3 linked regions of the Homo sapiens genome follow. The protein of the gene in region 3 interacts with the protein of the main gene of each other region in a pairwise test. Each region holds a gene or a part of one and is shown on either strand. Other genes may lie near its edges. The genes, in order: TSC22D2, KCTD21 and UFM1.

Region 1 (7,108 bases), on a different chromosome or scaffold from region 3:
GCTATTCCTGTTGATGGTGATGAAGACAGGTATGGAAATCTCTATTTTAAATATTTGATAGAAATGCTTGGCCAACATTGTAGCTTAGGATGCAACTTTGGGAGATTGTTGTCAACGGAGGCCCTTAGCATTTTTAAATACAAAATTTAGTTTTTGGTAAAATTGATTTAGATTGCTGATGCTGATGTCAAAGGGTGTAATGAGCGAATTGGTCTTGTCACCGTTGTTTAAAAGCACTAAAATGGGTAGGGATGCAACATTGTTTACTCAAAAAAAGGTGAATTTAAGCTTAATGCTTACCATTTAATGGTGGTAGCTAGTGTGTTATGCTCCCATAGAATTGTCCTTTTCTTACATATCAATCACACTTGAACACGTAAGGCAGAGAGATTTGTCAGTGTGAGTTTTGAGGCTGAGACATAATAATACTACAAGTTTTCCTTTCTGGAAAACCAGAAGGTCCTCTAGTGAAAAAAAAAATCTATGTAAGGAATCTTCTCCAGTGTATCTGGAAAGGCTGGAGACATAATGGTGAAATGTCAAATCCGGCTTTGAAGATCATACTTAGTTCAGCCTTTTGATTAAAGGAGGTACAAGGTCACGAGTCTTCCCAGGGACTTCTCTAAGATACTATTTTTTTGTTGTTAAGCAAAAAATGTACTGGAAAGATATTCTTACTTTCCATCAGTCTATTTATTATAGGAAAGGGAGGTTGAGATCGATCCTTTAACTGTAGTGAAAGCTATAGTTCTTGAAATTAAGAGTAATTTTATAATAAAAGTGTAAATGTTAATAATTGGCTCCCTGTATTTAGGGATGCTTTTTTTAATGGCCTAAATAAGAATTAGTGTATTGCTACACCAGTGCCACAACAGCTGATGTTTGGTTATGGTTTAGTGAGGATTTTTGTGGTTTTGAGGAGATGTCACATGTAAATTTGACATACATATTGCAAAATTTTAAAAGCTGACTTGTTGCAATGTTTTAAAATTATATTTAAAAATTATAGAAAAAGTTTCAGGAATTTCACAGTTAGACATTTCTTTGCTGGGGTTTTTGTTTAGCGAGAGGCTAATTTTAGGTGTTTTTAAAAGATACAAACTAATATTATGGATTTCCAGAATAATTAGTATGTGGAAGAATACAATGACATGTATGTTAAAGCTTTCTCTTCCTATGGTTTCTTCTGAGTTCCTTCACATTTCTTAACCTCCCATTTCTAATTAGCCTTGTATTTTTGTTATATACTTCTGTTGGTTTGAAAAATACTCACTGACTGAAATTCATTCATCTTCTCTGCTTTTTGTAATTTAAAGTTCATCTTTTTTTGTAGGTGACTTGCTTATGGGGAGTCTTTCTTCACTTGAGAACGCTTAGAGAATACCACGTGTCCATAAGTGAGCTCAGCTAGCTAGTCATTGAGAAATTTTGTGTGTGTGGGACTACTAAGTAAACTGACTCCACAAGCCACTCAGAAAAATCCCTCTACTTTTATAGTTGCTCCCATTGTCACACACAGGGACACACCTGTAACACAGATTGAGTTTATTTTTTCACCTTTGGTAATAATCAACAGGCATCTTCACTTTTCTAGCTGCCACAAGCCAATTTTTTCCTGATAAGTTGGCAAATAACCTTTTGCTTTCCTCTGTTCCTGTATACTGCCCATATCTCTTCAAGAAATGATGACTGGTTTCCTGAGCTACCCCGCTTTCTATACACACACACACCCCTCCACCCGAGAATGCAGATTACATTTTCCCTTCTGTGCACACCTCTCTCAGTTTACAGCATCCATACTTAGATTCCTCAGAACTTTAGTACGATGATAAGGCATGAAGCAGAGACTTCTGTTGATAGATGGAAACTGAAATGTATTCTTTAGGGTATGACATCAAAAATGCATTTATTTTTTCCTCTTACTGTATTAAGAGTTGGTAATCTGAAAACTCTGATTTCCAAATTTGTGAATGGTTGAACTACAGATACTACTGTATCAGTGTTCTTACCAATTGCAACAGTTAATTCAGTGCAGGGGTTTTGATGTATGTACAGTCCTATTTTAAACATGACACTTCCCTCCCTTGCCCCAATCATTTAAAATCTACATTGCTTACCAATGTTCATTTCTGATTTTTGTTACAGTCTTTCATTGGTTTTTAACTTGACATGCTAGTTTCCAAGATGTAATCTTACACATTTGACTGTTTTGTCACTGGTCCAACATACCTGGTGAAGGAATAAATCCATTAGGTAGAAATAGTTGGGTTTTTTGTTTTGTGTTTTTTTTTTTTAATAGAAAGCTTTGGTTAAAAAAAAAAAAAAGAACAGGGTATTTTAAAATTTTGTGTTTGAAATTAAATAACAGTTTTCCAGGCATATGTTTAAATTACTGAGATGAGTACTTTTGAGGAGACTACTATCTTAACTGAAAATTTTAATTTTAATGTGATTTTGGGTTGCCGCCTTAAAATCTGCATGTTTTCAAATTTGAAATAAAACCAACTGGAGTGAGAGGTCTTGACTAATTGTGATTTAAACTTTGCAAGTAGTTTGACAAATTTCAGATCCTAAGGAAATATTTGTAAATAAGATATATGCTTTTTTTAAAAAAAAATTAGGACTTTAGTAAACAGTCTATTTCTTTGAGAAAAGAAAGGAAAATGGGAAATTAACAAAAAGATTGAGGTGGTTTAGGTTGATACATTGAAAACTCTTATCTTGAGATTTTGGTTCCATTACCTAATGCAAAGTTCTATATTGGCTTAATTTTGAGATCATTTATAATTAAAGAACCGGGCCTTATAGTAATACATCTTAATATTATCACACCTTTAAAAGGCTGATGGTTGTATATGCAAAAAGTTCTCAATTAGCATTGCCTATTGACTCTACATTATTAATTACCATAAAGTTTATCTTTCTGGCCATTTTCATTAGAAAGGTTTATGGTCAGTTGTTGAGACTCTTCAGATTGATTTTGTGTAAACTCGTGGATGTGATGGTTGAAAATACAGTCCTTAAATATGTAGCTACTTTTATAGTGAACTTTACAAAACTTGTTTAAACTACGTACACACTTAACAGTCTCCTGTAAATGAGAGGAGGTGCAAAATATTACTGGCCCTTTTGGAAAAGGAACACAGTACAGATCACTTTCCATAGATAGCCAACCAATGTGAACTCTGTAGGCCGCATTCCAGGAACTCTTATGAATGGCTGCAATTGTGAGCTGTCATCTGTGGCCAAAAGACTGTTGAAAACCTGATTCTAAGGATCCTTTGGTGGCAGATATTTCTATGTCTTGTTAATGGTTTTATTTGTGTGGTTTGCTAATGATCACTGATAAAATATTATACATTGTGAATGTTAAGTGGTGTGTCCTGGTATGTGCCATAAATACACATTTTGTTTGTACATTTATATATATTTTAAACCAAATTCTGCTGCTTTTTTTACTTGAAGTTTAAGTGAGAGGATTAAGTAAATGTATACCAGGAGGCAGAACTGTCTCAGTCTTCGACCTCTGTTGTATGAAAGTCTCACTGAATTGAAGTCTCTAAAGATGGAAATTTCTTACTTGAATCTCTGTTTCTTGGAAGCTGACATTTATCTGTTAAATTGTGAAGGTAATTTTGCTCTTGTAGGTTTACAGTTGATGTCTGAATCACATACTAGATACTATCCTATGCCTATCTACACGTTTAAGAGTGTTCTTACTGAGGAGTTAGTAGTAAAAATGTAAATTCGTATATATGTGTCATTATTGTTTAGCATAAAAACTGATACTGATGTATTCATCAGGGATTACTGATGGATACCACATGGATTACTAAAACATACTTTATTCATAAACGTGGCTTGAAATAAAAGAAATGACAGATTTCCAAAAAGGCTTACGATTTTCCAAACTACCCGAAATTCCTAAACCATGAGCTATATCTGTAGGAGTGTGGCCTTTTATATTCACAGTGACACATACTGTATAAAATTTTATGTGCACTAAATCATATAGGCCAAACATTGGTAAATTTTTTTAGAAAACATGATGGCTTATATGTGTGTGAATAATACAGATTTCCAGCTGACTATTTTAGTAACACTTGTTTTTTCTTTTTAGGAGATCACAACCCCTGAACTAAATCACCTTTATGAGAAGTCATTTTATATAGGACTGGTGGTAGGGGTATATATGTCCTCTACTTCCTGAGAATAAATATAATGCCAATTCATTTGTTATTTAAGAATCCTGGGCCAGGAGCGGTAGCTCATGCCTTGTAATCCTGGCACTTTGAGAGACCAAGGTCAGAGGATTGCTTGATGCCAGGAGTTGGAGACCAGCCTGGGCAACATAGCGAGGCTTTGTCTCTACAAAACATTTAAAAATTAGCCAGGTCTGGAGGCCAACACCTATAGTCTTAGCTACTTGGGGAGGCTGTAGGAGGAGGATTGCTTGAGCCCAGGAGCTGGAGGCTACAGTGAGCTATATTATAATATTGCACTGAAGCCTGGGCCACACAGCAAGGACCTGTCTGTAAAAAGAAAAAAAATAATTCTGATAGCACTAATTTGGAAATAGTGAAATATGGTACTGGATCTATGAATCTGGTACTTCCTAATTAGGAATGGGAGTCTATCTTTCTCTGCACCAGAAAAGATCAGAAGCAGTTATGAACAAATAGCAGCCCCACCAATCAAGTAGTAGAGAAACCCAAATAAATCTGTTTCCTAATAAAGGAATGGTAGTTAGGAAAGTATAAAAGGAATCTGACCTTCCTTTCCTAAAATGGCAGGAGTTGGGGAAGGGGAAGTGTAGAATGATAGCAGATAATCAAAATGGAAGAAAGTACAGTGGAGTGGCATGAAATATAGTCTCAAAAGAAATAGGAACACTTGTGAATACTGAGGAATGGTGTTCTAATTCTTTCTTTGAAGAATTGTTTTAGTCCAGTGTGTATTTCCTTTTCTGAAGATTCTGTTTATTTCTTAATTGCATTACTCGTTAAATACTTAAAGTATGAGGAAGGAGAGGCCTTACAAAAGCAGGTCTGTCTGGTTAAACATAGCCTGAATGATATTCCGTAAGTAATTCCTTAAATTGGAAAAGCAGATTTTTGGTAAGAAATATTAATCATATTTAAGGAGTATGTGTAGCAAAACTCCTAAATTAGAATAAATTATTTAAGTGTATGGTTTTTCTTTATACTAAACCAGTGGGCTTGTGATTTGAGGCTACTGTTTTCGATGGTATTGTATTGAGTCCACAGAGAATATGTATACCTGAATCATTGGTATAATGTCTTTCCCACAGCAATTCTTGAACATATCAAATTACTCGATATTTGTTATATTCTTAATCTGGCATTGCTTAGGGCAAAAACTGGGTGTCCCTCATAAAAAGGTAGGAACAGTAGCCAGTTTGCACCATTCCTATACATTATTCCATGACTTTAGGAAGTATACTTTGAGGTATACTCTTCAGATTTGGTTTAATAATATTAAAGGTATATTGATGGATTGTTTCCTGTATGAAAGTATTGCATGATTTCTGCTCTTAAATCAGGTGAATTAAATTTCATCTGGATTGCTTATCTCAAATTTAAAGCCTCAAATCAGACTTAAATAATTAGTATTTAGTATTTAGTTTGATTCCTTTGTACCCAAGCTAATTTTTGTTTAAAAAGAAAAAGTGCTTCCATCCTTTTAAGTAGTACATTTATTTGTGATGTTAGTGAAAGTTCTGCAGGTAACTGAGTTAATTTTATTAGTGTTTGCCTGGGACATATACCTATTATTAGGGTAGGCAGGACAAATAAGTAAAGTCTAAATGTTAAATTACTTAAAGCTTCTTTTCCCATAAGCCTTTCCTAAAATTTGTCTAAAGAATATTGCTTTGTAGAAGATGGAGTTTGTGATTAATGTGTCAATTATTGTAAATAATGATGGCATAGTTTTAAATGTTAGTTTTAGGCTGTTCATCTTATTACACAAGTATATAATTTAATCTGAATAAAGGATTCCCAAAGGTAAGTGTAAAGCCTCTAGTTTCTAAAGTAGAGTTAGTATTTAGTTTTTATCAAGTGGTTTTATATGTTAAAGCAAAACAAATCTTTGCTTGGCATACCGTCTACCTAGTCTTTGAAGACAAAACAAAGGAGGGAGGAGCTGTTTTGATCAAATAAAACCAATAGCGTGTTTAATTATGTGTTAACATATGTGAATGACCATTACAGAGACAGTAGAGTCAGACATACCCGGGCTAAAATCTAACTGCTACATTTGACTTTGAGCTAGTTGGTGTAGATGCCTTGTTTCCTCTTATGAAAAATGGGGATTGTACCTACCTGGGAGAGTTTTAAGGAATTAAATGATGTGTGCAAGTAATTTGAACAGTCTGTAACATAATATATGTGGCAAACGTGTATCACAGAAATGTTAATATTTCAGTGTCCAAACTGCTCTCCCAGATCACCCCTTTACATGTTATAAATCATACCAAGAATCTTCCATTTTAATATGAAAGCGTAATTGTATGGTATGGATGTAGTCAGAAAAAAGGAGATGATGTTTTAGTCTAGACGAGTCATGATGTTGTAAGAAGTATAGGGAATTGTGTTCCAGTCCTGGCTCTTCTATCATTTAGCTGGTTTCTTTGGTCAAGTCATTTCACTTGTCTGTTTTTCTTTTTTGAGACTTTGTCAAATTTTAAGATTCCTTCTAGCCTTATGTATATGAGACCATACATTCAAGTGTGCTTCATGAGAGAACTGCAAACTTAAACTTTCTTCTTTTTACCCCTTTCCTGCCACTTGACTATTGTGTGGCAATAAATGAAGTTTGTAAATACTCATTAAGTAGGTTGATTGCCCAAGAAAACATTTAAAACAGCTTATCAGTCATTCAGCTTTCATGATGCTCTGTGAGTAGTGAGCACTGGAATACAAATATGAGACTATGCTGCCCTCCTAGATCTCAGGCATTTTCATCATCATGAAAATGATGATCAGATGTATACTTTGACATACATTGGAGGTGGTGATGGAGTAATATAAGGTGCTAATGGGAACAATTTGAGACATCAGATCAGATTGGGATTGGGAGGGTAGTA
Region 2 (7,807 bases), on a different chromosome or scaffold from region 3:
TGGAGGAGTTAGAATCTAAGCCTGGGTGGGCAGTCTGGATAGAGCCACCACCCACAGAAACCACACCACTAGGCCTATTTTTTTTTTTTGAGATAGAGTCTCGCTCTGTCACCCAGTTTGGAGTGCAGTGGCGTGATCCTGGCTCACTGCGACCTCTGCCTCCCAGGTTCAAGTGATTCTCCTGCCTCAGCCTCCTGAGTAGCTGGGATTTCAGGTGCGTGCCACCATGCCCGGCTAATTTTTGTATTTTTAGTAGAGACGGGGTTTCACCACGTTGGCCAGGCTGGTCTCAAGCTCCTGACCTCAAATGATCCACCCACCTCAGCCTCCCAAAGTGCTGGGATTACAGGCGTGAGCCACCGCGCCCGGCCAGGTCTGCCTATCTTCTGTGCTGTGATTCTGCCTGGAAGAAGATGGCTGTTCAGGCCTTGTTTTTCCTGCCTCATCATGAACCCAGAATCTCTGTAACTCGGCAGGAAAGAAACTCCTGTCATGACTCACTGTGAATGTTGACAAAGAGAGGCCACTCCTGGGCCTCAGAAATGTCAAGGATGGGCAGAAAGAACTGGAGACAGGCCAGGCTCAGTGGCTCATGCCTGTAATCCCAGCACTTGGAAGGCCCAGGTGGGAGGATCGCTTGAGTTCAGGAGTTTGAGACCACCTGGACAACATAATGAGACCTCGTTTCTATAGAGAAAAAAAAAAATTAGCTGGGCATGGTAACACGTGCTTGCAGTCCCAGCTGCACAGGCTGAGGTAGGAGGATCGCTTGAGCCTGGGAGGTCAGGCTGCAGCAAGCCGAGATCACGCCACTGCACTCCAGCTTGGGCAACAGAGTAAGACCCTGTCTCAAAAAAAAAAAAAAAAAAAAAAAAAAAAAAAAAAAAGAAAAGAACTGGAGAGGCTGTGTGGGGTAGGGGCAGACCATGCATGGTATTCGGCATTACCTGGGTTTGCATTTGAATCATCCCCTGCCACTTACTAGCTGTGCAGCCCTGGGCACGTTCCTGGGCAGATGATGATGATCATAACAACAACAAACACTACAACGGCAATAATAATGGCTAACGTTTATTGAGCAGTTACTACCGTGCTAGGCACTCTATACATGTTAATCTCTTTCAATCTCACAGATTAAGTAGATACTATTATATACCTACTTTACAGACCAACCATACTGGGCCCTCTTCGACTTCTGCAATTTGGCATCTGCCATCCCCTCTGCCTGGACCTTGAAGACAAATCCCATGCATCGGCCAGGTCTCTCAGCTGGAATTCATTCCTTCTCCTCTGCATCTGCGGAGAATTTTAGTCTAACCCCTTACCACAGCCAACTTTACTTAAGTAGATGGATGCCTGGCTCCCTTGCTGGGGCTGGGGGTGCCCCTTTCTATATCCACAGAAGCACGTAGAATAGGGGAAGAGGAAGAAATTTCTCTCCTGTTTAGTCAGATCCATTTTCCCCACCTGGATTTTCAAAACTTTTTAATTTTGAAATGCTCTGTTCAATTTTCAATCTGGAATCTAAAGGGATGTGACAAGGCCGAGGTGATTACTTGGGAGTAAATGCAAGGAGAGTTTCCACTGCGTAAGGGAATGGACAGCACGTGGCTGGGTAAATTTCAAAAAAGACAATGCTCAGAGTGAGTACTGTGTTTTCCAGTAAGTGGGAGACTTCCCCACCTTACCCCACCGGAGAAAGGACTCTTTGCCTTGAAGCCCCTAGGACGACTACCCTTTCTTCACCTCCTCTTCCTGACCACCCCACATCAAAGAGCTGCGTCTATAATTCTGTCTTGCCCAGTCCATATCTCTAAGAAATCCGAAGGCTGCTCTATTACCATCACAACCCATAGGGAGGAGAGAAAAGGTGCTTCCTAGACACAGGGACCCCAGAATGAGCTGCGCAAAAGGCAGGAGGAGAGAAAGGTGGGCTGGAAGAAGGAGACCACGGAATCTGGCACGGCAAGGTATTCTTTCATCTGGCGTAGACCTCCAACAACCACTACCATCCCCCAGCCCCTTCCAGAACTTTCCTTCACCTTCTCGGCTCACTCTCACGCTTCACCTTGTGCTTTTCCTCCGGCACCAGCACCCCATTTCAAACCGCTCTCTTCCTATGTCTCCTCCAAACAGTAATTTATAAACACCGTGCTTTCAAATCCATCTCATTTCATCCTCACAGTACTATAGGAGGGCTGCCTTACAGGCTGTCATTCGGAAGGGTTGGGGGGACTGGTCCTGCCAGACAATTTGCGAAGGTCGGGGCATCAAAACTTTTCTTTCCTGCCTCCCACGCCAAGCTAAACCTCTGCCTCCCCGAGTGCAGGGAGAAAAGCAAGGTCTTTGAAGTAAGGAGTCCTGAGTGGTTTTAGGCAAGTCCCTTCGCTTTTCTGAGCCTCACATTCCTCACCTGTCAACCGCTATAGTGACGCCTCTACTTTTCAGGGCGTGGGAGGTCAATGAGATCACTGGTGTGCCGCACTGAACTCGGGGATGGACTCTTTATTTCCAGTCAGTAAAGGGAGGTGTTCTATGCATCACAGGCTTTTGCCCACGCCGCCACAGCGCGGCCGGCCCAGGGCTCTCCAGAGCGGGGCAAGTTCCCTGTCATCTGTGTCTCCGCCCTTCCTTCCCCAATCTCACCCAGGCTGGCCTCATCGGCTTGTTCCGCACCCACTCCCCAGCCCTACAGCCCCCACTCCGACCTGACAAGTGCCCCACCCCCACCTAGAGATCCCGCCTCTCCTTGCCCCACCCACCAAGGACTCCTCCCACAGTCCCGACCCTCATTATCCGGGCTTTTCCGACTATCACCATCCGCCCTTGCTCTCCCAACAGCCCCGCCCCTCTAAGAGCTCTGCCCACTTCGGCTCACCTCGCTCCGAAACGCGCCCCCTCCCCCGCACCACAGGCGATGCCATCCCCATTTCACAGATGGGAATGGCGAGGCTGGGATAGATTAGTCTCATGGTAAGACAGGTGCTCAGTGGGCCCACGTACCCTCGCCGGTAGTCCCCGAGCCCCGCGACCCCGGCCGTGCCGCACCCACCTCCTGCCCTCGCTCTGCAGCCTCTCCCTCCGCGAGCGGCCAGCGCAGCTTTGCGAGGGGGGCGGAGGGTAGGAGCCCAGCCCAGGGGCGTGGCGGTCCGGGGTCTGTGCGCTGCCTTCCGGGACTGGTAGTTCTCTCTGGGCTCCTCGCAGCTCGGCGCGTCGAGAGCGAACTCCATCTCCCAGGAGGCATTGCAGCGAGTTGCTCTGCGCCCCGCCTCGTCCCCGCCGGTGTCCGGCCGGCTGGCCTTAAAGGGGACGCGGTCAGAGTGGCAGCTCGCGGGGTGGCCCCCGCTCCGGCTCCGCCCCATTTCACGCACCTCGCCCCTCCCCATGCTTCATCCCGCAGCCCCGGGGCCGCGCCGCAGAGTCGGGCTTCCTGGATACATAGAGGCTTGTGCCAGGCGGGGTGGGAAGACTGGATTTTGCAGTGGAAGCAGCATCTCTTCCGTCTGGGACCTGGCTGAGGGCGTCCCCACCCTGGGGGGAGCAGAGGACCAGCCCTGACCTAGCCGGGCCCAGCCTCGTCCTGCCCGGCCTGAGCGCCCCGCCCAGCAGCCGGCTCTGGCCCACCGGGGTCCGGGAGGTAAGGGGGTTGGGGGCGTGTGACTGTCTTTGGGGGGCGGTGTCTGCACCCTGGCCTTTCGAGAACCCTGGACTTGCGAGCCCAGGGCTGGGAGTCGGGAGATCTGGGTGCATCCTGGGCCTCCTGGGCCTCACTGTGTGACCTTGGGCGAGTAGCTATTCCTCTCTGGGCATTAATCCCCTCCCTTCATCAATTGTATGTCGAAGTGATCCTGCTCCCTCCCCTTTCAGGTAAGAGGGCATTCGCACCCAGTACCTAGTACATTCGCTTGCTGGCTTTTCGTGGGGCCCTCCAGCTCAAGCGTGGGCTGGGCGCGGGTGCACTGGAGGGAGGGAGGTGGCACAAACTGGGGGGCCCGAGGCCACCATTGCTTGGAATGGGCTTTTCCTATTCTCAGTGTGCTGGGCCCTGGGATACCCTCCCCAACCCCCTCTTACGGCCCTGGCCCTTGCAAACCGGAGACCCTGATGTGTCAGCTTGGTGCCCTTCCTTCCAGAAAGCTTGGGGTGGAGTGCGGCCCTCACAGGTTTGTGAGGGGTGGCCCCGCAGGGATAGGTGTGTGTGGTGGGTTCCTGAGGAGGAATAGCTGCTCCTGCTTTCTTCCCTTCTCTCTCCTCCTTATCCTTTGAGGAAGAGCAGCTGCTTTTTACCAGTGAAACCCTTTTTTCTTTTTCTTTCCAGGAGACAGTTTGGTGGCCCAGACATGGGCCTCCCGGAGTAGGGTGAAGCACTTCTTCCCAGGGTTGCCTTGGGTAGAAGTTCAGTTAAAAAATACCTAGAGAGATGCTGCCATTCAGACACCTGAGGGGCCAGAGATGGAGGGCACCACCTGGTGTCGGGAGGGGCAGCCTGGTACCCCCAAGGAAGCTCTGGCTCCCAGGGGAGTCAAAGGAGGGAGGCTGGCTTCGAGGGTCAGAGAGGGGAGGAAATGTGCTCCTCAGCTCTTAGGTGCTGAGCAGAGGCTGGGAGGGGCTGCTCTGACCTGGAGCAGGGAGAGGTTGAGTAACACCATGAAGCCTTCTTCTCAGGTCCTAGGAGATTCTGTGAGCTTTTGACCTGAAGGCTAACCAGGAACAGATTTTTGTTTTGTTTTGTTTTGTTTTTGTTTTGTGCTTTTTCTTTTGCTTTGGTTGTTTGAACAATTTCTAGAATGGCTAAAGCCTCAGTCCAGTCCAGTGACCTCTGTAGGGGCTTTCTTGACTGATGTTTAAGATTTTCAGGGTTTTTGATATGCAAGACCAGGCCTGGGCAAAGGAGGGGGTGGTGACTGGACCAAAGGTTAGGCCAGTTTCTGGAAGGTACTTTTGTGGTTACATCTTTGGTTTTCTCTCATCTTGCTGTCACATGTCTCTCATGAGTTGCTTGACGCACCTTCACGGACACCTCAGTCCTTGGTTCTGTACTGGGCACTGGGCTCAGAGACGGGGATTGGACCTCTGCCAAGGGAGGTCCCAGCCTGGTGGGAGACAGAGACATGGATTCCAGTTATGCTGCAGAGGGATGAGAATAGCTAAGAGGGCCTTGGAGGCCAGAACTTTAGACACTTGAATTGTGGAGGGAAAAGGAAAGGCTTCCCAGAGGAGAGGGCATGTGAGCTGGGCATTGAAGGGTGAGTCAGAATTTTCCAGGAGAGAAGAGGGAAAAGCCCTTTTTCAGTAGAGGGGACATTGTGCAAAGTAGCAGTCAGGAAAAAGCCCCCTGCTCCAATGTCTGCAGAGTCTCCACTGAACAATGTTGCTTGAGTTCATCTCCACCCCTGCCCCACATCAGCTGAGTGTCACAGAAAGGGCTTGCATGTCCGGCTCAGGAGTTTGGACCTTATTCTGGGTCCAAGGGGCTGGAGAGTGTTGAGAGTTCTGAGCAGGGGCATGGACGGAATGGTGCTTACCGTGTAATAAGCTCCATCTGACGATGCTGCATCTGGAGAGACCAAGGAGGGATGATGAAGCTTGAGCGGGGGCCCAGGGCGTGGCAGTGGGGCTGAGCATAGGAGTTGTGTACACACACATACACACACACACACAGGGTGCTTTGGGGTGATGGAGATAAGTCAGGCTCAACTGTGCAGGAGCAGAGATCAGTCAACACTCGGCAGAAATGTTGAGGGTCATCCGAGAGGAACAGGTGAAAGGATCTGGGCCTTTTGGCAGAGGGATTGGGATTTTCCTGAGTGCTCACTGCGTGCCTTGGAGTGTGCTGGTGTTGCTGGGACGCCCCTCAGGCTGTCATGCCAGTAGGGCGAGGGGTATGAGGCAAGGGCTTGGGAGGAGCAGCAGCGCTGGCTGGGAAAGGCTAAGGGGTGGGCACGTAGTCACCTTCTATTTGGGCATTCCGAGGATCACAGAGGTAAAAGAACACCTACCTCCATGGTGGCTGGGCTAGACTCGAAGCCTGGACTCTGTTCTCCTCTAGGACACATGCCTCTGTTGGAGGATGGATTGAGGGAGGGAATTGGGAGATGGGTTAGGAGGCTACTGCACTAGTCCAGGCAAGAAGTCAAGGGGTCTGATCCTGGGTGGGGCTGGGAACACCGAAGTGGCAGGGAGGGCTAATGGAGGAAATGCCTTGGAGAATCAGCAGGATCAGCAGTGCGTGTCTCCTTGTCTCCTTTCCCTGACAGTATCTGTGTCTCCCATCAGTGCCAGGTGGCCCAAAAATAGACTCATGACAGCCCGGCCCTCATCTTTTTTTTTTTTTTTTTTTTGAGACGGAGTCTTGCTCTGTCCCCCAGGCTGGAGTGCAGTGGCATGATCTCGGCTCACTGCAAGCTCCGCCTCCTGGGTTCACGCCATTCTCCTGCCTCAGCCTCCTGAGTAGCTGGGACTACAGGTGCCCGCCACCACGCCCGGCTAATTTTTTGTATTTTTAGTAGAGATGGGGTTTCACCGTGTTAATGAGGACCTCATCTTTTTTATACCTTGTCTCAACCCTGTGAATGGTAGGCTTGGAATAGTCCCCATTTTCCAGATGAGAAGGCTAAGAAGCCAGGCAGGGGCTCACCCAAGGTCACCATGACTTTGAAGCAGAAAACCTGTATCTTCAGCTTTTAACACAGGCTCTCCTCGGGGAGGACATGGCTGCTGTTTGCTGCTGCGGTTGGTGCGGGGCAGCTGTCTCTTGAGTCAGAGCCAGCATGGACAGGCCATCTCCTCACCCGGGGCTTAGCAGGCTAATCCAGCCCTCCTGAGGGAGGCAGAGTGCAGGTTCTAATCCTGCTTTGCCAAGGCCATGTTCCTCTCTCTGAGCCTCACTTTCTTCATTCCTGCCAGTGGGATAGCTGGCCTTGTCCTCCCTTCCCTGGCCTGATGGGGCCAGGTGAGGTGCAAGCCTCTAAAACCCTTTTGTCTGAGTGCATGCAAGATATTGAGTGGGTTTGCTGGTGACCATGGTGACAGCTGTCCTCAGACTGCCTGCGTGGGAGTTGGGGCAGGTGGGCAGGGCTTGCTTGCTGTGGCCAGGCTACGGACTGAGCAGAGGCTGCCGGCTGGCCTTGGAGATCAGAGCTCTCATGGAGCAGCTCTATTTGAACTGTCAGCTGCCAGGCTTATGTGGTGTTAGGTAGAACAACATGAAATTGCCAACATTTGATCATTCGGTTTCATGCGGTTCAGTCTAATAGCATTTGTCCCCATTTTACAGAAAAGAGGCTCATGGGTATGATTTACTGAGGGTCACACAATGAGTCAGGGCTAGAATGTAGGACTCCTCATTCCTAGTCTGATACTCTTTCTACTCTTTCTAGTACTCTTTCTACTACCAGAGTCTTCCCTGTCTCCAGAACTCCATTTCTGCCTGCCCCCATGCCCTCTTGCTTCACACATGATGCCAGTGCCTCATGGATTAGGGTTTCTTCTTGGCTGCCTGAGTACCAGGATTTCTTGGCATCCTGGGTTGAAAGCATATGAAATCCACTAGCCATCCCAGGGGTCTGGGAGGATGGACTGTTTGTGTGGGGGAGGTTGGCCACAGCAACTGCCTTGTCACGGGCACTGCCTAGAAAGGGGACCAGGGCTGAAGGGAGAGTTAAAAAAATTTTTTTTCTTTTTTCTTTTTTGAAACAGGAACTCACTTAGTCACCCAGGCTGGAGTGCAGTGGCGTGATCTCAGCTCACTGCAACCTTCGCCTCCCAAGCTCAAGTGAGCCTCCTGTCTCAGCCCCAACTAGCTGGG
Region 3 (7,095 bases):
AGGGATAGGAAGTATCTTTATCTGCTCAATTTTGCTGTGAACCTAAAACTGCTCTAAAAAATAAAGTCTATAAAAAAATACTCTGGGCTGGAGAAAGGAGGAGAAGAAAATGATAAACATTGTAAGGTCTCCCCGAAATATGGCCCTATTCCTTCATCCCTAGGGAAACAATCTCTAGGGAATTTCAGAATCAGAGAAAAGATGCCCAGTTCCTGCTCCCATTGAAGCCCAGGAAGACAACAAAGTTCCCTTCATTCTAGGGAGAAAACATGTTATCTTTAGTCAAAGATGTCTGAGCTCTTCTGGGTTCCCTATAGCCACAGGGTGGTACAAGAGGGCACTTTTCTTACATCCCTTAGAGACAACAAACAGTCCTAAAGTCGTCTTGCCAGCACACAAAAAGGAGTGATATCACCAGACAAAAATGAGATGTCATGTGTCTCAGATGTTTGGAGTGGACACAAATATCACTGAGAATATGGAGAGATGATGACAAAGGACCAGACGTCACAGTCCTCTGAAGCCTGTATTCTACATAAAACTGCAAGAAGAGTCATGTGGGGAGAAACTACAAATGGATCTAAAAATCTCAACTTGAATCAGAAAACCTTAAGTTAATAGAGAAAAGTAAAAATAGAACATTAATATTTACCTCATTTAGCTGGTGGAAGGATAAAAATATGTAAATGTGGAAAAAAAAAACTCATGGTTGAAATGGATTTGTCAGAGGCTACTTCAGTTTTTCTAAAAGTAATGTTTCCATTAAATGAAGAATTCGCACAATATTTAGAGAGAAAATTTAATTATACCAGACTGTTAAATTCCTGTTTTTCACAGTTCAAAATGCCATTTTGTAATAAAGATATTTTACAAATTCTGTGGTTAAAATATTCCACGTTTTGTGATTAAGCCTCAAATTTAGAAACATTGTAGTCAATGAGCTTCGTAGAAAAGTCATTTCTTTTTCTCACTGAATTTTAGAAAATATTTGGGAAAAATATGTAACTGTAACAATCAAATGTAGCACATTTAGAGCTATAGTCTTCTGTAAGGGCTTGCCTGGACTTGCTAGGCTCCGATCTCACCTGGGTTTCATTGTTCTTTTTGACTCAAAGGAATGTAAATATTCTCTAACCTTCTAGTCCTTACCTTGAAAAATAACACAGCATTTACATATTCCCAAGTACTTCTGTAACCAAATCCACTCTCTCCTCTTTGTATAAGGCTTCTTGTCACTAAATTATGACTTATAGCCAAGGCATCAAAGTTTAAAGTCTATATTTTGTCATTGATTTGTACAAAGTGGTTAATACCAGCCAAAAATAAATCTTAATGAATTTTGAGTCATTATTATCATTGCTTCAATTATATCAATGCCTTTTAGTGGATTTTGAGGGGAGAAAAGGCAATAGAAAAAAATGAACAAATTAAAGTACTATTAAAATACCAGTCAATTATTAATTGATCAGTCTATAATTTGTTCCCTGTAATATAAAGTATTTGGAATAGAACACCTTAAGATTTATTCAGGTGCAGATGTTTCAAGATTACATAATTTGACTATCAGATGGTTCTAGTCATAATCGTAAATACAATCAAATTATGGTGAAAATGAAAGAATTTTTTTTGGCATCCAGAGGAATATAAAAAATAAAGTTGGCTATAAAAATAACTAGTCAGAAGAATTTCTATGACTATGGAAGCAAATCTTTTTAGTCCTTATGTAAATTTAATTTCCTTCTGGCTTTCTTCTAATAATGGGAAATTTATATGCATTTGCAAATAGAATATTGGTATGCTTCATTGACATTTAATGAGGTCTAACATGGTCACACTGTGCACTTCTACAGTCATTTCTGCCTCTACATGATACTAATTGGATCTTTTCCAAAACACATTAGGCCATTTATGCTATTTGTTGTCTTAAAATGTTCCATTGCCAATTATCTCCAAAAATTTGCTCCAGAGTTTGCTTCTGATTACAGCCATTAAACGTACTTCAACATTTTAACTTTTCAGTAAAAGAGAAGGTCCTTGTTTTGCTATAAAATTTTCCAATTGCAAATCCCTTCACAAAGTTAAAAAAATTGATTATAAATAAATCCATTTATAATTTCTTTCTTGTCCTAAGCAAAATAAAACTCAGGAGGCTGCAGAAATCATGCTGTGACTCTGAGGAGACAAACATGAGAAGCAGAGTTGGGGACTGAGGTGAAAAAGAATTCTAAATATTTAGAAACAGCTGCTTTTTAATATCTCAAGAGATGTTATTTTGATATATTATACAAATGTATTTTCTGAAGCAGCAGAATCTGAGTACTAAAGTCACACTGTGGGACTGAATTCTGTTTTCACCACTTTTTATACATACAATAAAAGCTCTCTGATTAATATCCATTTTTCTCTTTAGGATTTTGCCACGTTTTGATTCATGAGCAGAAACCAAACTATAAATAGCAGGATGCAAATTTTGTTTCAAAATATATTATATGTAGTCTTATAGACTGTAAATATGTACACTCATCTCTTTCATTATTATTTGGCTAGCTGACAATAGGTAGACACAATCACAGTTTTATCCTTATTACTATTCTCACAAGTTTTAGTCACACCCACTAATTGAATAGTTTCAGCTATTAAGGCTGTAACTGTTGATCCCTGTATCTGTCAATCAATATTTGGCTTCATCTACATATATGGTAAGACCATTATTTTAAAAAGTGAGGATGGCTGTCATGAGAATGTTGGAGTCTTACTTGCCTACTCAGAACCAGAACTCTCTCCACTGGGAAATGTCACCATAGAAGATCAGTTGGCTGCAAAATTATTGTAAAGATGAATTTGATCTCCATTATCCCTACTACAGTTCCTTCCTGGTTCCTCTCTTAAGTATCTCTCCTTAAGAATCTGATGCATATTCTAAAGATCAACTAGATTGCCCCATTATTTTAATGCCTACCTGCTTCCTCCTTTGTCTATTCATGCTAATGTTTTAAAAGGGCATTTCAGTCATTGTGAGACAGACGCATATTTTCCAAACACAGAGGTTTAGATCTGTAATAAAGTTTAGAGGACAATTTTCTTCCGTCATCACTACACAGGATGTTAGATCCTAGAGAGTTGACGCCTACCTGCCTTACTCATCTTGGATTCCCCAGAGTTTAGCTTAGCGCCGGGCAAATAGAAAGGGTTCAAAGTTGGTTGTTAAATTGAATAAATGTGGTCAGTGATTAGCAACTCAGCGCACTGGTTTAATTAGACCATATAACAAATTACTGAAATCTCCTGTTCATAGATGTGTCTTCCCAACTAGACGCCACGTTCCCCAAACGTAGAAACCTCATTTTTTCTCACCCACCCCAGCGGGAGTCTTGGCATAGATAATTCGTACTTGATAGCTCTCTTACTTAACCGAAATTCAATAGTTATAAATCAGTATCGGAAAGTAAAGCGTGAAGGAGAAACTATGAGAAATGTAAAGGATATAACAGGATTGGTTTGCTGGAAAGACGGAAGAAAACTAATGATAAAGCAGTGTTACAATTCCTGCTTCTGGAGCACCAATTAAGCTTTTCCGCGCTCAGGTTGCCTTAGAAACTTTAGAGCGCGTCCGCCCCAGCCCCGCCCCCGGCCTCGCCCCGAGCTTCGCCCCAAGTCCATCTCGCTCTTCATCCGACTACCCCATACCCTTACTTCCGCCCCAACCTGCCAACTGGAACCTAGGGTCCTACGCTCTATGCCCACGCTTATTCTGCCTGACTAAAAATATGGTAGCAAATTACCAAAGTTAGAAAGATATCTTATAAATATAATCCATACTTTTTTCTTAGATATATAAACGCAAAAGCACAAGATATTTGTAATTTAAAAGCGCCATCTAGCATGAGCTCTTAGGGCCAATTTTCAGGCAGTGCGTTGGATAGCAACAACTTCGGAGGTCCCCAGATTGCAGAGGGAGACGTGGACGTGAGTGGAGCGGGGCGGTCCCCAGCACACTAGAGGAAGTCGTGCTACCCCCGCGGAGTTGTCGTGTGTTCTGGATTCATTCCGGCACCACCATGTAAGTGTTTGCTTACCGACTGCCATAATTCCTGGTCCAGCTGCCCGACCCTGACTCTCTCCCGCTCTTTTCCTCAGGTCGAAGGTTTCCTTTAAGATCACGCTGACGTCGGACCCACGGCTGCCGTACAAAGTGTGAGTAGCTCGGCCGAGATGGGCCTTTTGGGGCCGGACAAGACGGGGCTGGGTTGGGGATGATCCGAGCTTTTCCAACAACTACCCCACGCAGTCTTCATCTCTTCACTTCATCTACTTTCCTGGCTCGCGCCCTTCCAGGAGCCTTTCCCACCGGAGCCTGCGAGGAGAGGTCCGTACTTGCTCGCTAAGTGTCAGCTTGGCAGCTTGGCCCCGTCACGAGGGTGTGGGTGTGTTTCTGATTAGTGACCTCCCCTCGGAATTCATTTGGTGGGCAGGTGGCGCGGGAGGACAGGTGGACCAGGTTCTGGTAATTTGTTGGGATTCTTAAACAGTCCCCATCTGCTGGATATTAGAAAAGCGTTTCACCGCTTTGGCCAGCTGGTTGAGGAAGTTAAGGAAGACATTCCATCTTGATAGTCAAGACTTTGAAATTACTTGAACATTTGTTATTCCGCGGCTTCTGAGTTTCGTTGTGTATGAGTAACTCAGCAGTCGGGCATCACAAAGTAATGAGACTCAGATCACACCCTTCCTATGCTGGGATTTAATAGAGTATTTGGTAGGAATGGGAAATGCAGATAGGGGATAGTTTATCCATGTGGGGCCTTTACTTATCCTTCGCAGTTGAGTGATAGATTTTAAGTAAACACTCTTGAGGTTATTGCAGTTGGAAGTAGCATGAAATGTAGCAAAGAACAGGATTACAATAGAATTTTTTGCATAATTAATTAGTACCTTGGCCTACCTAGCTGACTGATAAATTTCAATGATTTACCAATCCATGATCCGTACAACCTCTCAGCCTTTTCCTCCCTTGATCTTTTCATCTCCAAAATATCCCTGTTACACTTTATCTCAGGTGTTCATGGTTGCAGCCTAGAACCTTAAGATTCCAATAATTGCTCCATCTCTGAGATGTCGTTTACAGGCACTCTTATGGATAAATACATTCTCTCCTACATGATTTACTATAATTTCTCATCTACAACGTTTCATTTAATCCATTAATCACAGTGATTTTTTATCTGTAGCTATCCCCACTTCTATTCCTTACCTTACTCCTTATATAGTTAAGAGTCCATTGGTCCACCTTTAAATCATTCTCATGCAAACACCCTCAACTCTGGTGGCCCTGTCTCTCCTCTCAGCATATTTTGGTTAGTGAAACACCAACTCTGAAACCAGCTGTTTGTATTATCTGTACATAGCTGACTGCCCCTGGAGAAAATAACAGACTGGAGGGTTTACATTAAATTCATGACTACAATTAATAGTACCTAGTACTTAATACATTCTTCAAGTTTGCTCATTTTCCTCCTTATTCTCAGAAAAGATTGTTTAAAAATTTCAAACTTTCCACAGCTGCTGTCTCCCTTGCTATCAAGCCATCAGAGGGAAATTCTATCATCTTTACACCAATGTAAACCTACCACTACATGGATAAATCCGTTAATTTCCCATCCTGTTAGAATGGAAAAAATGACTTCACTCCTATGAAAAACCACTTGAGCTATAGTTCCCATCTATTTCAGTCTTGTCAAGGTTAAAGTAGATGGAGTCCAGTGCCCCCTCTCTCCTCATGATTGGTTTTTCCCTTTCTACTGGATTATTCTCATCAATATGCAAATGTACTCGAAAGAGAGCGTGAGAAGGAAGGAAGAAAATGATAGAGTAGGACAATAACATTAAGAGCCTGGAACATTGTACCAGTTCAGTTAATATGTGGTGACTGAATGAATTTAGTAGGTACAACTGTTGTTTAGTATGTATGTGTGCGTGTGTAGTTGTGTGTGTATGTGTATAAGGATGTGTGTGTGGAAAATTCACATAACGTGTAAATGTGTGTACAAGGGTATCTGTGCTATATTTTCTTTTCAAAGTACATGGTAACTAGTACTTGGGTACTTGACAAGCTTGCCCTTTTAATCTTTGCTTCCTTTACACATGTTCTTTTCTGTGCTTAGAATGCAGTCTCATGATCACAACATATTTTATAGTAATAAAAATCTCACCTCTATGAAGTTTGTTTTTTTTTCTTTCTTTCTTTTTTTTTTTTTTTTTGTGAAACAAAGTCTCGCTCTGTTGCCCAGGTTGGAGTGCAGTGGCACGATCTTGGCTCACTGCAACGCCCGCCTTCCCAGTTCTTCTCCTTCCTCAGCCTCCCAAATAGCTGGGACCACAGGTGTGTGCCACCTTGCCCAGCTAATTTTTTGTATTTTTAGTAGAGACGGGGTGTCACTGTGTTAGCCAGGATGGTTTCCATCTCCTGACCTCGTGATCTGCCCACCTCGGCCTCCCAAAGTTCTGGGATTATAGGCGTGAGCCACCCCTTCTGGCCAAAGATTTTTCTAATTGTCCACAGAGTTAATCTCGCCCTTCTTGAGTTACCTGTGGACTTAGTCTTTATAATAATTCTTACCAATTTATGTTATTATTTTGTTTATATATTTATTTAAAAAACAAATGATGCCAGTAATTTACTTCAAAAATTCTCATTAATGTAAATTTATTCAAAACACTGGGATAATTTAAGTACCGATTTTATGAAATGACTGGCAAATACAACTTTAAATCTAGATAAGATCTGTGGAGTCACTGTAACTCTCATTTTTTCTAATTTTCTGCCAGTTAGAACTTGCATTAAAAGATGTTTTCATTTTTGATTTGTTTTTATTGGCTTGTCTGTGGACACTCACCAACTTAATATACAGATAGAAACTTATTTTAATGAGCATCAGTATGACATCTAGGTATATTGTAAGGACATTTCCAAGTCTCCGATTTAAAAGTGAATTGAACTCCAAGGGTTTAGAAGTTCTCCAATTGATGCAGAGTTTTAGGAAAATGAATCTCAGATTCTTAACTACATATACACTGCAAAAATACTTTGTAAAATAC

The links.
Region 1: the proteins of UFM1 (region 3) and TSC22D2 interact in a two-hybrid assay, tested with the Homo sapiens proteins (one study listed by BioGRID).
Region 2: the proteins of UFM1 (region 3) and KCTD21 interact in binary tests that used the Homo sapiens proteins (3 or more experiments, as listed by UniProt).

What each region holds. Positions count from the first base shown.
Region 1 is NC_000003.12:150,411,280-150,418,387, forward strand, and holds part of TSC22D2 (TSC22 domain family protein 2), read left to right. Parts: coding exon 1-29; intron 30-7,108. UniProt on the Homo sapiens protein: Reduces the level of nuclear PKM isoform M2 which results in repression of cyclin CCND1 transcription and reduced cell growth.
Region 2 is NC_000011.10:78,185,521-78,193,327, forward strand, and holds the start of KCTD21 (BTB/POZ domain-containing protein KCTD21), read right to left. Parts: upstream 3,107-7,807; 5' UTR 3,053-3,106; exon of another isoform or gene 3,004-3,052; intron 1-3,003. UniProt on the Homo sapiens protein: Probable substrate-specific adapter of a BCR (BTB-CUL3-RBX1) E3 ubiquitin-protein ligase complex mediating the ubiquitination and subsequent proteasomal degradation of target proteins. Promotes the ubiquitination of HDAC1.
Region 3 is NC_000013.11:38,345,862-38,352,956, forward strand, and holds the start of UFM1 (ubiquitin-fold modifier 1), read left to right. Parts: upstream 1-3,989; 5' UTR 3,990-4,058; coding exon 4,059-4,060; intron 4,061-4,137; coding exon 4,138-4,194; exon of another isoform or gene 4,195-4,253; coding exon of another isoform or gene 4,254-4,366; intron 4,367-7,095. UniProt on the Homo sapiens protein: Ubiquitin-like modifier which can be covalently attached via an isopeptide bond to lysine residues of substrate proteins as a monomer or a lysine-linked polymer.